Regions from separate parts of the Homo sapiens genome. Here regions 1, 2 and 3 are each reported to be linked to region 4. Evidence: microRNA targets listed by miRTarBase, many of them from high-throughput screens and not tested one by one. Region 4 holds a microRNA gene; each other region holds the end of a gene's coding sequence.
Evidence for each region. Region 4 holds the annotated microRNA hsa-miR-365b-5p (AGGGACUUUCAGGGGCAGCUGU, at 1,345-1,366, opposite strand). A microRNA usually pairs through its seed, bases 2 to 8, with sites in the 3' UTR of a target mRNA and lowers its output. Matches are read on the target gene's strand: a 7mer-m8 pairs with bases 2 to 8, a 7mer-A1 pairs with bases 2 to 7 and ends in A, and an 8mer does both.

Region 1 (3,080 bases), not on the chromosome of region 4:
GCACATAGTAGGTGTGGCCTATGTATGGCAGATTCATTTCTGCCCCCAATAGGATTTGCTGTAGTTTGGATGTGTGTCCCCTCAAAATCTCATGTTGAAATGTGATCCCAATGTTGGAAGTGGGGCCTGGTGGGAAGTAATTGGGTCGTGAGGGCAGATCCCTTATGAATGGTTCAGCACCATCCCCTTGGTGATGAGTTCTTGCTTAGTTCACACAAGATCTGGTTATTTAAGAGTCTAAGACCTCCCCTTCTCTCTTACTCCTGCTCTCACTATGTGATATACTGGCTCCCCATCACCTTATGTCATGATCTTAAGCTTCCTGAGGTTGCACCAGAAGCAGATGCCAGCACCATACTTCCTGAAAAGCCTGCAGAACTGTGAGCCAATTAAACCTCTTTATAAATTACCTAGCGTCAGGTATTTCTTCATAGCAATGCAAGAAGGCCTAATACAGAGTTTGACTTCATTTATTTATGCCTTCATTCACCAACTTTCACTGACAGCTACTCAGTGCAGGCCATGTGCCAGGTGATGCTGGGGACAGATGCTGTCCCTGACCTGGAGAGGTCATGGCAGGGGTGCAAGAGCAAGGGCAAGTGCCAAGGGCTGAGGGGCACAGAGGCAGCACCCTCACCAGCCTGCAGTGGGGGTTGGCGGGTAGAAGGCTTCCTGGAGGAGGGACCAGGGTTCCCAATTGCACAGCCAAGTCATGTCTTCTTGCTTGGAACCAGGAGAGGGGAAGGAGGCTCCCCTTAGGATGTGTCCCTAGTTCTTGGGTAGAGAAGGCGCCTCTCTGGAAATACTACTATAATTACCCCTTTTCTTTCTTTCTTTTTTTTTTTTTTTGAGACGGAGTCTTGCTTTGTCGCCCAGGCTGGAGTGCAGTGGCGCGATCTCCGCTCACTGCAAGCTCTGCCTCCCGGGTTCACGCCATTCTCCTGCCTCAGCCTCCCGAGTAGCTGGGACTACAGGCGCCCACCACCATGCCCGGCTAATTTTTTGTATTTTTAATAGAGATGGGGTTTCACCGTGTTAGCCAGGATGGTCTTGATCTCCTGACCTCGTGATCTACCTGCCTCAGCCTCCCAAAGTGCTGGGATTACAGACGTGAGCCACTGCGCCCGACCTCCCATTTTCTTGACTAGATGCCCCACCTACTTTTTTTTTTTTTTCCCTTGAGATGGGAGTCTCGCTCTGTTGCCCAGACTGCAGTGCAATGGCACGATCTTGGCTCACTGCAATCACTGCCTCCCAGGTTCAAGTGATTCTCCTGCCTCAGCCTCCCGAGTAGCTGGGATTACAGACGTGTGCCACCATGCTCAGCTAATTTTTGTATTTTCAGTAGACACAGGGTTTCACCATGTTGGCCAGGCTGATCTCGAACTCCTGACATCAGGGGATCCACCCACCTCAGCCTCCCAAAGTGGTGGGATTACAGGCGTGAGCCACTGCGCCTGGCCTGCCCCACCTACCTTAAGTTCAAGGAGAAGCCATCTCCCCAGGACCCAGCCCCAGGCCTGCACCACAGATGCTCAAAGACTTGGAGGAACTGATGAATTCATTTTAATCACAGAAATTTGCCTGGGCTTGAGCAAACTGTGGGGACTCAATAGATTTGGAGGCCTCCTCTCCCTTCTGAGAGGCCTGCCTGCTTCCTGCCCTGATGAATCCCTAATTTCAGTACAAACTGAGGAACTTGAAAAACATCTGTGCACTGGGACCGCCCCTCACAGGAGGGCTGAAAGCAGCACAGCTGAGTCAGCGGCACATTCAGCAGGCGTTCAGTGGGGAAGCAGGAGACAGAGGCGGCGCTCACAGGACCCGCTCCAGGCTTGTCACAGCCACACATCACAGCACTTTGGGTTTTGCCACAACAGAGCAGCTCTGAGCTCAATCCTTGCACCTCAGAAGTGCATTTATGATTAAAATCATGCTCGACATGAAGCCCTGTTATGATGTGCAGTTTAAAAAGAGAAACGGGTCCAAATCAGCACCAACAGAGCCCCCCAGGGGGCTCCAAGACTCGCCCCAGAGACAGCAGAAGGACCCCATGTGCGCGCTGATCTGTAAGAAGGGTGGTGGATGCAGCAGCAGGGGGCTGCGTCCAAAGGCAGCAGGTGGGGGCCTCTCATAGTGTGACCCTGGGCAGGCCACTCCCCTACCCCGGTACCCTCACCTGAAAAATGGGACAGCAACACAATGAGACAACAGAGACTGTCTAGAATATAAAGAAAAGAATGAAAAGGTCCATCCCAAGGGCAGCCTGGTGGGGACGGGGACAGGCAGTGGGGGGAGGCTGCCTCTGGAAGACCTGTCCCAGCAGAATCAGCCCCCACCTCTGCCCTGCCTTCCAACCTTTGAACCACCAGGCAGTAGACACATTCCCCTGGGAAACAGAATTTGCAAGGCAGGTGGAAAGAGCAGCACTCACACTGGCTGTGACTGCTGAAAAATGCTCATTGGCCCTTCTCGAGGACTGAAAGGAGATTCGGAATCACATTTAAAATTAACCCGTGACCCACTTCCTGTAAAACTGAAGATCACCCTCTAACAGCCCTAACAAACAGGCTCTGGCCGTCTCCTGACCCTAACCCGGTGGAGCAGCTGACTGGACGCAGTGACGCCACCACTGAGGTTCTGCAGGGTGGAGGCGGCCAGGCTGGCTCACTGCATGAGGTGGACGGTAGCTGCCTTGCGGATGAGCCGCTCGGTCAGGGGCGAGTTGGGCTTCAAGGCATCACGCTCCATCAGAAGGCTCCTGTGGAAACAGACACAGAGGTCCTGTTACAGAACCTTCTAGAGGGATGTGGGGCCTGGTGGTCCCTTGGTCCCAAGGCAGAACACAGGCAGGCTAGACTGCGGCACTGAGGGAACAGCAAGGGCCAAGGCCCAGGGGCAGGAGGCCTGGCCTCAGTTTGGGGAGAGGTGAGGATGGGAGGGCACAGACCTCCAGTGCAGGAAGCCACACCCGAGATGGGGCACAACAGGTGGCAGTGGGGAAAACCCAGGTTTGAAGAGAGAAGACCCAGGTACGGTTTGAGGTAAAGACCCTGCTGTGGACTGAATGTCTGTGTCCA
Region 2 (3,064 bases), not on the chromosome of region 4:
TTAAAACATCTACATTATTATCAAGATACTAGACCTTATGAATATTTAATATTAAAGTGTGGTATTCTTAAATTTTTAATACACAGACATTTTAAAGGACCATTAAATTGATTACTGCCCAGCTGAGAAATGCAGCATCCCTCCCCACCCACCCCGCCCCCATGCTTGCCATGCCATCTTGTCCCTGCCTGCCGGGGGGAACACAGGTCCCAGATTCAGTCCTCTGAGCCTCCCAGCCTGGGGCCCTAGAAGGCTCACAACTGAAATAGTTACCCTCATCATTAAAAGGGTCTTCCTGTCCCTCCTCCCCATCACACTCTGCCTCCCACTCTCTCTTCCTTACCCTGTGGGGGCTCCAGCTCTGGCCAGGCCAGGAAGCCCCAGATCCCAAGGGTCCCTGGACAGATCACAGGCTGAAGATGAAAACTCTGGACTTGAATCCTGTTCTTTTCAGCGGGGAGACAAATACAAATCACCTTCTTTCCCTGAGCACTCCCACTCTCTCCGCACTCGATGGGGGTGGTCTGGGAAGCTAGCAGAGTTGGGCCTGGGGAGGGTGGCTCCTGTCCCTGGCTGCCCGAATCACCTCTGAGCCATGGCTCCAGTCCCTGTCACCTTGCAAATAGTCCAGTGGCCCCTGAAACCCTCCTAATCACACAAGGATGGCTGCATTTTCTGGCCAAATTCTTTATCTTTAGCCCTCATAAAAGTGATTCCTTGGATACCACACACATATATAATATTATATAGAGCGATATATTTAATACCTGTGTATATATGCATCACGGGGGCGACATATATACACACTAGAAACAAGGCTGGTGACAACGGACTGCAACACCACGGATCAGGGAAAACGAGTATCATCGACATCACGGCCACACATGGCCACAGCCCCCACCTTGGGTGTGGTCTCCCCTCCCCTACAGCCACACCACCAGCACCCAAACTCTGCAGTGCTGGCCTGCTGCGGCCAGGGGGTGGGGCAGGGAAGAGGAAAGGGCGCATGCCACGATTATCAGGAAAGGTTGGGCAGTGGCGGCGGGAGGAACAGCGTCCCCTCCAGCCCTGGGCAGCCCATCACTGTGTCAGCGCGCGCTGGCAATCCTTGCTTGAGAAGAATGGGGTGGTCCCTTCTCTCCTTCTCACCCCCCTACAGCCTAATCCCTGGTTCCTTCCGGGGCTGCCCCACTCCTGTGCCAATGATGTGGGGCATTCTGGAATGTCTGGGGAACCAGGGCACGGTGGATCTGCCCTGGTTGATGGAAGGTAGGGTGGAGAGGAGGGGGGTGCACACAGACATGTCAGACGAGAGGGACGAGCGAGGCCTTGGTGAGTGGGGGCAGGGGCTGGGGGTCCACTGAAGTCCCAGACAGCTGGGAGGGCCAGGGATTAGGGAGGGGCTAGGACAGACGGTTATAACTGTATGTCTGGGTCTAGAGGAGAGGACATACTGGGTCCCCAAGAAAGAGGGGCCGTGTCCCATCCTGGAGTGGCCCATGGTGCCCGGGGTCAAGCCTCCCTTTTCTCCGCATTCCCCCAGACCCTCACCCTTCCCACCTCCCACACCTCACACAGATCCTGAGCTCATGGTGTCCTGCCCTCTGCCACCTTTCCCAGAGCGCATGTCAGGAGGTGACCTCTGCTGCTGCACCCAAAGGGACCATCCTTGGGAGGGGGCGGTCCCTTCATGGGGTGCTCACATGGCCAGCCCTCCTCTGGGCCTCCCCTCCCCAGCCCCCAGGCAGCGCTGCCTGGGACCCCAGCTGCACACTGATTCAGAGACCATCGCATCCCTGCTGAGGGGACCGTGGGCTCAGCCAATAATTGGCCCTGAGTCTTTTCAGCCCTGTTTTCATCCCAGCTCTGCCTTGTGCTGGGACCGTGGGTGGACCACTCCTCCCTTCTAGGCCTCAGTTTTCCTCTCTGCAAAATGGGGTTTGGGCTGGATCATCTCTGAAGGCTCTGAGGACCTACAGTCTATTTTCACTGGCCCACGAGGGAGCAGGGTTCAGGTGGTGGCATCAGAGAAAGGGCTGGGACTCCTTAAGCTCCAAAGATCATCTAGCCCACCTCCTCCCAGCCTTCCGGAGGGAAAGCTGAGGCCCCAGAGGGTAAGTGGCCAGTACAGTGTTCCCAGCTCCAACCTGGGGCTACATTTTAAAGCTAATGGGGCCTCTGCCCTCTGTTGTGTCCTGATTTGCCCCCAGGGGGAGGGGGTGGGAGGAGGACGGGCCAGGGAGAGAAGGACCCTCCTGCTGGAGATTCAAGTGGGGACCCCAGGCTCCCCAGCCCTGAGCTTTGGGCCCCCATTAGGAGCAGACAGAAGTTAAAGCTGGAGGCTGAAGCTGGAGGGGTCAGCCAGGCCCCTCCCTCCTCAACCAGGAGAGCCGTGGGGGTGGGGGAAGGGCAGCCCAGGTTTCAGCGGGGCCTCCGGGGGCTGCAGCACGTGCGCCTGGGTACGCACACCGGGGCGGTGGTGGGGAGAAGATGGACAGGGCCTCAGGGGGCTGGGGGCTGCCTGATGAGGGCGGCCCCCCACCCCCCTGGCCTGCCCTGACCCTTCTATCAGGCCTTCTGGCCCCACCCCACCCCCTGACCCCAGGACTTCACCCACGGCCAACACCTGGCCCTACTCCCCAGTGGTGGCGGTGGCAGCAGCAGCAGGGGCTTCTGGGGTGGCACCGGCAAGGTCCCCGTCCTCTTGCAGCAGGAAGTTGTATTTGCCAAAGTCGTCGTCCCGTGGGCACAGCAGCATGTCCTTGCGAGCCTTGGCCAACTTCTGCTTCAGCACCTCGCGCCGGTCCAGCCACTCGTTGAGCTCCTCCTGTCCATGGGCGCAGCGGCACTTGTCCCCATCTGGGCAGGCTTTGCCCTTCTGGAGCCTGTGGGTGGCAGGAGGCTCACTGCCCGAGCTCTGTGCCCTTCCCACCCCAGGCTGTCCATCTGGGGCCGGCCGCTTGACCTCCCCGAAGACAAGCCTCTCCCTGGGCAGCTGGGTCCCAGCTCAGGGAAAACCTGGGTGTCCTGACCCTCTCTGGGATCTGCCCCACAGCTGCAAATT
Region 3 (3,080 bases), not on the chromosome of region 4:
CTGGGAGGGCACCATCTAATCAGCTGCCAGCATAGCTAGAATAAAAGGAGGCAGAAGAACATGACGAAACTTGACTGGGCTAGCCTCCCAGCCTACATCTTTCACCCATGCTGGATGCTTCCTGCCCTCAAACATTGCACTCCAAGTTCTTCAGCTTTGGGACTTGGACTGGCTTCCTTGCTCCTCAGCTTGCAGATGGTCTACCGTGGGACCTTGTAATTGTGTGTGTCAATACTCCTTAATAAGCTCATATATATATATATCTCCTATTATATATATATATCTCCTATTATATATATATCTCCTATTATATATATCCTATATATATAATATCCTATTATATATATCCTATATATATATAATATCCTATTATATATATCCTATATATATATAATATCCTATTATATATATAAAGTATATATATTTATATATACTTTATATATATTTGTATATATATCCTATATAGCTCCTATATATATCCTATTATATATATATCCTATTTTATATATATATCCTATTTTATATATATATCCTATATGTAATATCCTATTTTATATATATATGTACCTCCTATATATATAGGAGTTTATTAAGGAGTGTTGACCCACACAATTACAAGGTCCCACAATAGACCTTGCAATATATATATATAGATATAGATATAGATATAGATATAGTATTGTGTGATATATATATATATATATATATCCTATTAGTTCTGTCCCTCTAGAGAACCCTAATACAGATGGAATGAGATTTTTAAAAGTAGATGCTTTTCTAGGTCGAGAGCAACCAAATTTTGGCAATTTCACATGACGTGAGCTCTACTTAGGAATCCTACAATTCTGGATTCTCTGTCTTCTTACCTGAGTTTTACCTATTCCTGCTCTTCCTGAGCTTCTCAGAATATGCCTTTAAATTCCACCATCTATCCTTAAGCCAGTTGAGTTCCCACTAAGCTCCTCTAGCCAACCCAACATCCATTCCATAAACATTCTTTGAGCACCAGTTCTGAACCAGGGACTGCTGCAGACACAAGGGCAGATGTAAGTCTGTCTTAGCCTTTGAGGAGTTCATAGTCTAGTGGGAAATTGAAACTTTAAAAATGTACATAATTAGGTTGGTGATAGAAATATGTCCAAAGTGTGGAAGAGAATCAAGAAGCATCATGCTTACGGGAAAGAGTGAGGATGATTTCAAAGAAGAGTCGATATGTGGATTGTGTCCTGAGAGAACTGTAAGATTTCCTGAACAAACCCAAGTAGGGAAGGCATTACAGCAGGCATGATGTGAAATCTGGGCTCTGGAGCCATGAAAGAACACTGAAAGTTCTGGGGAAGGGCCAGTAGCTCCATAGGGCCCAATGATAGGATGCAAGGAGGGGCTGGGTGTGGTGGCTCACACCTGTAATCCCAGCACTTCGGGAGTCCAAGACAGGAGGATCATTTGAGGCCAGGAGCTCAATACTGCAGTGAGCTATGATCGCACCACTGCATTCCAGCCTGGGTGACAGAGCAAGAGCTAGTCTCTAAAAATTAAAAATAAAGAAGATGCAAGGATATAAAAGGAGATTGCTGTCAGATCTTAAAGGAGCATGACATTCTCTCCCTGAATCATGTGTTTAAGCCACAAAATTTTTTTCTAACCAGAGAAGTGACATGATGTTTGTTTTTGAAATATAATTTTGCAAAATTGTCATTTTTGAAATATAATTTTGCAAAAATTATATTTCAGGAGTGCTTTTCTTCCTGTGACCTGTGAGACCAGAAAGAAGAATCAAGCCAAATGAGTAGGATGTGTAGGCTGTAAAAACTATCTTTATTTTTTTTCTACTTATAAAAGAAATACAGATTCATTCTAAACAATTCAAACATTATAGAAATACACAACATAGAAATCAAATGCTCCCTGTAATCCAACCTCCCAGACCCAAACCACTGTTACTACATCTGGTATAGATTTCTTTACACTTTTATTTCAATGCCATTTCAATGGCAAAAACCACAATTAGTTTTGCACCAACCTAATAGTTTATAACATATTAATATGTTTTTTCCATACCAGGAAATATACAGCTACCTTATTCTTTTTAGTGGCATGTAATATTATATTACATTAATGTACTATAATTTATTGAATTAGACCTTATTTTGTGGCCATGAGGATGTTTTCCATTTTTTTCTTTTTTTTTTTTCTTTTTTTTGAGATGGAGTCTCGCTCTGTCACCAGGCTGGAGTGCAGTGGCTCGATCTCAGCTCACTGCAACTGCCACCTCCCGGGTTCAAGCGATTCTCCTGCCTCAGCCTCCCAAGTAGCTGGGACTACAGGCGTGCACCATCACGCCCAGCTAATTTTTGTATTTTTAGTAGAGACAGGGTTTCACCATGTTGGCCAGGATGGTCTCCATCTCTTGACCTCGTGGGTCACCCACCTTGGCCTCCCATAGTGCTGGGATTACAAGAGTGAGCCACTGCACCTGGCCACATTTTTCATGATTATAAACAATCCTGGGATGAACACCTTTTTCCATAAGCCCTTATAAACTTGTGAAGGTGTTTCTATAGGATACATTCTTAGAAATCCTTCTAGAAACTGATATGAAGGGAATAACCATTTTTTATTTTAATAAATATTGTCAAATTGCCATCATAAAGGTTGTATCAATGTACATCCCAACAGTGTATGTGGTCCCCAACTTCCCAAGGACTGTGGGATTTTATAGACAATCTGTTCTCATCAGAGAGATTGTAGAACCTCGAGACTCTTCATTTAACTCTGTGAATGTCTGCAGTTCATACATTTCTCTGGTGGCTAATACATTAACATTAATAGCAGCTCGAAGGTTTGCCCAGAAAAGCCCACATTTACGCCTATCCTTGGGCCATTCCAAGTATGCTTTTTTTTCCAGGAGAGCTTTCAGTTTATGATACCTGGTGGGAATGCAATAGAATGGAATGGGTTCCAGTAAGATAAGAATTATATGATCAGAATTTTCATGGAAGAGATTGTGGTGGGCAAAGTAGAATTCATAATGGCACCACTCATTCTGGACAAAGTTGGGAGACAAAACAAAGATGGAC
Region 4 (3,080 bases):
AAAAAAAGGTATTTCTGCTTCTCGACAATCCCCCAGGACCTCCAAAAGCCTTGGCTGGTCAAAATAGAGTCATGTGTCACTTAACAACGGGGATCCATCCTGAGAAAGGCATTGTTAGGTGATTTTGTTATTGTGCCAACCTCACAGAGTGTGCTTACATAAACCTAGATGGTGAATAGCCTGCTGCACACCTAGGCTAGGTGGGGGAGCCCATTGCTCCTAGGCTACACATCTGTACAGCACGTTCCTATCCTGAATGCTGTAGACAATTAGAACACAATGGCAAGCGTTTGTGTACCTAACCAGAAAAGGCACAGTAAAAACAGTGTTATAATCTTATGAGACCACTGTCCTACATGCGGTCCCTCGTTGACCAAAACATCGTTAGGCAGTGCATGACTGTATCTGCAGGGTGGGGCTGGATAGGGCAGGGGTAGGGAGACCTGCTGAGAATGGAGGAGATCCATGAAGTGAAATAAGGATGGAGGACTTTCAGTCAAGGAAAAGCAAGCTCCAGGGTCACAGTAGAGGGGGAAAGACCCTCAATTCACTGTTCTATTTTCAAAATGGCTAGTTCACTGGGTCTCAGACAGACAGTGGATTCTGAGGCTCCTTCTATTTTATTTTATTTATTTTTTGAGACAAGGTCTCACTGTGTTGCCCAGGCTGGAGTGCAGTGGTGCAATCTTGGCTCACTGCAACCTGCAACTCCTGGGCTCAAGCAATTCTCATGCCTCAGCCTCCCGAGTAGCTGGGACTACAGGCACACACCACCACACCCGGCTAACTTTTGTATTTTTAGCAGAGATGGGGTTCTGCCATGTTGGCCAGGCTGCCTTCTATTTTAAAATACAATGCAAGTTCCTGCGCAGATAGATGCCTCCTCTACTCCTGCCTCAACTTCTCAGGAAAGGTTGGGGGGCATCTTGTCCAGCCCAACTCTGTTGCCTCTAACATCACTGACCCGGAAGATGACCTTCCTTGGGCACTGCACGTGCAGCTAGGCTCTTCCAGGCCTTCACTGCACACAAACCAGGGAGTTCCTGCACCCTCCTGGGCTCCAACCTGCACAGGAATATCTTGATGTCCAGCCCTCCCGACCCTCAGCCACTCCAATCCTCCACCAGAAGAGAAGATGCTAAAAATGCACGCAAACAAAATTGTTTTAATAATCAGCAAATCCCCATTCACTCTTATTTTGGACGTACATTCCAATCTGACCCCAGGAAGTCCCGGTCCTCCCAGAAGGGCCAGGTGGGTGAGAGGCAGGTTGCTGGCCGCTGCCCGATGCACACTGCAAGAACAATAAGGATTTTTAGGGGCATTATGACTGAGTCAGAAAACACAGCTGCCCCTGAAAGTCCCTCATTTTTCTTGCTGTCCTTGAACACTCTCCAGGTGAGGAAGCAGTCGTCTGCCACGCCCAGATGAGCCGAGGTGAAGCTGGTGTTCCCTCACCCGACACTGACGCCTTCCCCACAGCCCATGGAAAGCTCCCTGGTGGGTGGGAAGGCTGCAGGGTCTCCAGAGAGACACAATTTTCTCCGATGCCGGGCCCAGCTGCGGCCAGCCTCGCCGCCCTCCCAAGGCATACCCAGGAATGACCTGGGTTCCACCTAAAGCCAACTCAGAACCCAGCGCCTTCTGCCTGCAGGAAACTGCAGACCAGCATCCTGGTGGAATCCCAATGTGGAGAGCAGCCCCCAAAACTCGGGAACGTGGCAAGAACTATACTATAGTCTGTAGCCCCTGTGTTCACAGGAGGGGCGTGGACCATCTCAGAGAGACAATGATGGTCTCAGGCCTGGCGTGACACATGAACACAAGACAGCCAGCCTCCAACCTTCTTGTAACCAGGCCTGAGGCCAGGCCTGATTCAGGCAAAGAGAAGAAAACACCAGGAAGTGCCCAGAAGAGCAACCCAGGCCTGAAAACCCGGGAGAAGAGCTGCCCCGACTCTCTCCAGCCCATCTTAAAGAACGGCACACAGACAGGAGATTCCAACAGGAATGGGCACGGGAACTCCGGTTCCGCTTCTCTCCAGCAGTCGCGGCCTTGGTTACTCTGCCTGTAAAATGGGCCTGGAAGGAGCTAAGCTCCCACCACCCTCTCTCCCATTTCAAAGGGAAAGCCAAAGAGGAAATGAGACTTTCAGCTCTGTCACAGAAAGCAAAGGGGCTGGAAGAGGCTGCAACCTGTGAGAAACAGCACGCCCTGGGGTGCTGCTGAATGGATCTCAGGCCCGCCCACCAATTCTCGGCCATATCCCACCCTGCCCTTAGCAAAAGAGCAACAGCTTCACATTGGCCTGAGTGGGAAGGCAGGTCCTCCCAATACCCTTCTATGAAAACGGCCTACAATGGGCAACAAAGACAAGTGTGAAGACCTCTGGAATGTCCTAGGTGGTTTCTGGGTTCAAATCAACAAGCCCACAGGCTCTGCTGGGAAGCACAGGCTGAAAGAAACCAAGGTTGGGTGAAGGAGATGGTGAGACAGTGGCCAAAAAGAAGGGAAGAGACTGGTGGCCAATTTGTTTTTTGTATGGGAGGATAAAAAACAAGAGCTTCCAGAATCAGAGACTCGTAGAGGATTCTCCTTAATGGGACAATCCCTTCTGTCCCGAGGCCCAGGTGAGCCTCCAGGGCAGTAGAGGGTCAACCCCAGCGTCAGGGCATCAGGGCCCAGACCAGGAAGGCCCCTAGGGAATGAGGTCCTGCATGTGCCTCCCACCTGTGGAATGTCACCCAGCAACAGGAAACGTGTCTCCTGAGGCCAGGCCACTTTGCCCAAGGCCCCGGCACAGCTGGAATCTGTCCAGCCTGGCACTGCACCTGCTCTTTGGGGGCCCCACTGTCCATGCAGGAACCTGGCCTGTCAGGACACAGGTTGCCACCGCTGTGGTGAAAACACATCCCCACAAAAGACAGCCAGCTGCTGGCACCACTACCTGCTAACTTGCTGTATGACCTGACCCTGTGTAAATTACTCGGCTTCCCAGCCTCAGCTCTCTTATCTGTAATAGGAATAATAAGCCCACCTGGAAGGGCAATGTAAGGATCGAAAGAAAGCAAAGTGTGTAG

Region 1: the mRNA of TTC38 is a reported target of hsa-miR-365b-5p. The part of its 3' UTR that is shown has no 7-base or 8-base seed match.
Region 2: the mRNA of ZC3H7B is a reported target of hsa-miR-365b-5p. Seed matches in the 3' UTR shown: 7mer-A1 at 2,038-2,044.
Region 3: miRTarBase lists TLR10 as a target of hsa-miR-365b-5p. Seed matches in the 3' UTR shown: 7mer-A1 at 2,317-2,323.

Annotation. Positions count from the first base shown.
Region 1 is chr22:46,292,472-46,295,551 of GRCh38, reverse strand. TTC38 (tetratricopeptide repeat domain 38) reads right to left here. Exons shown (of 14, transcript NM_017931.4): 14 at 1,544-2,761. The coding sequence ends at 2,668. It overlaps GTSE1-DT (GTSE1 divergent transcript), which reads left to right. Exons shown (of 1, transcript NR_024009.1): 1 at 1-409. Among named protein-coding and RNA genes, the nearest start is that of GTSE1-DT, 2.6 kb to the left of the region's middle.
Region 2 is chr22:41,356,998-41,360,061 of GRCh38, reverse strand. ZC3H7B (zinc finger CCCH-type containing 7B) reads right to left here. Exons shown (of 23, transcript NM_017590.6): 23 at 1-2,885. The coding sequence ends at 2,633. Among named protein-coding and RNA genes, the nearest start is that of TEF, 23 kb to the left of the region's middle. RefSeq lists an enhancer at 1-66.
Region 3 is chr4:38,770,439-38,773,518 of GRCh38, forward strand. TLR10 (toll like receptor 10) reads right to left here. Exons shown (of 4, transcript NM_030956.4): 4 at 1,800-3,080. The coding sequence ends at 2,717. Among named protein-coding and RNA genes, the nearest start is that of TLR10, 11 kb to the right of the region's middle.
Region 4 is chr17:31,573,725-31,576,804 of GRCh38, reverse strand. It overlaps MIR365B (microRNA 365b), which reads right to left and starts at 1,394; the gene lies at 1,284-1,394. MIR365BHG (MIR365B and MIR4725 host gene) reads right to left here. Exons shown (of 3, transcript NR_186556.1): 3 at 1,146-1,294. MIR4725 (microRNA 4725) reads right to left here and starts at 1,536; the gene lies at 1,447-1,536. RefSeq lists an enhancer at 2,820-3,080.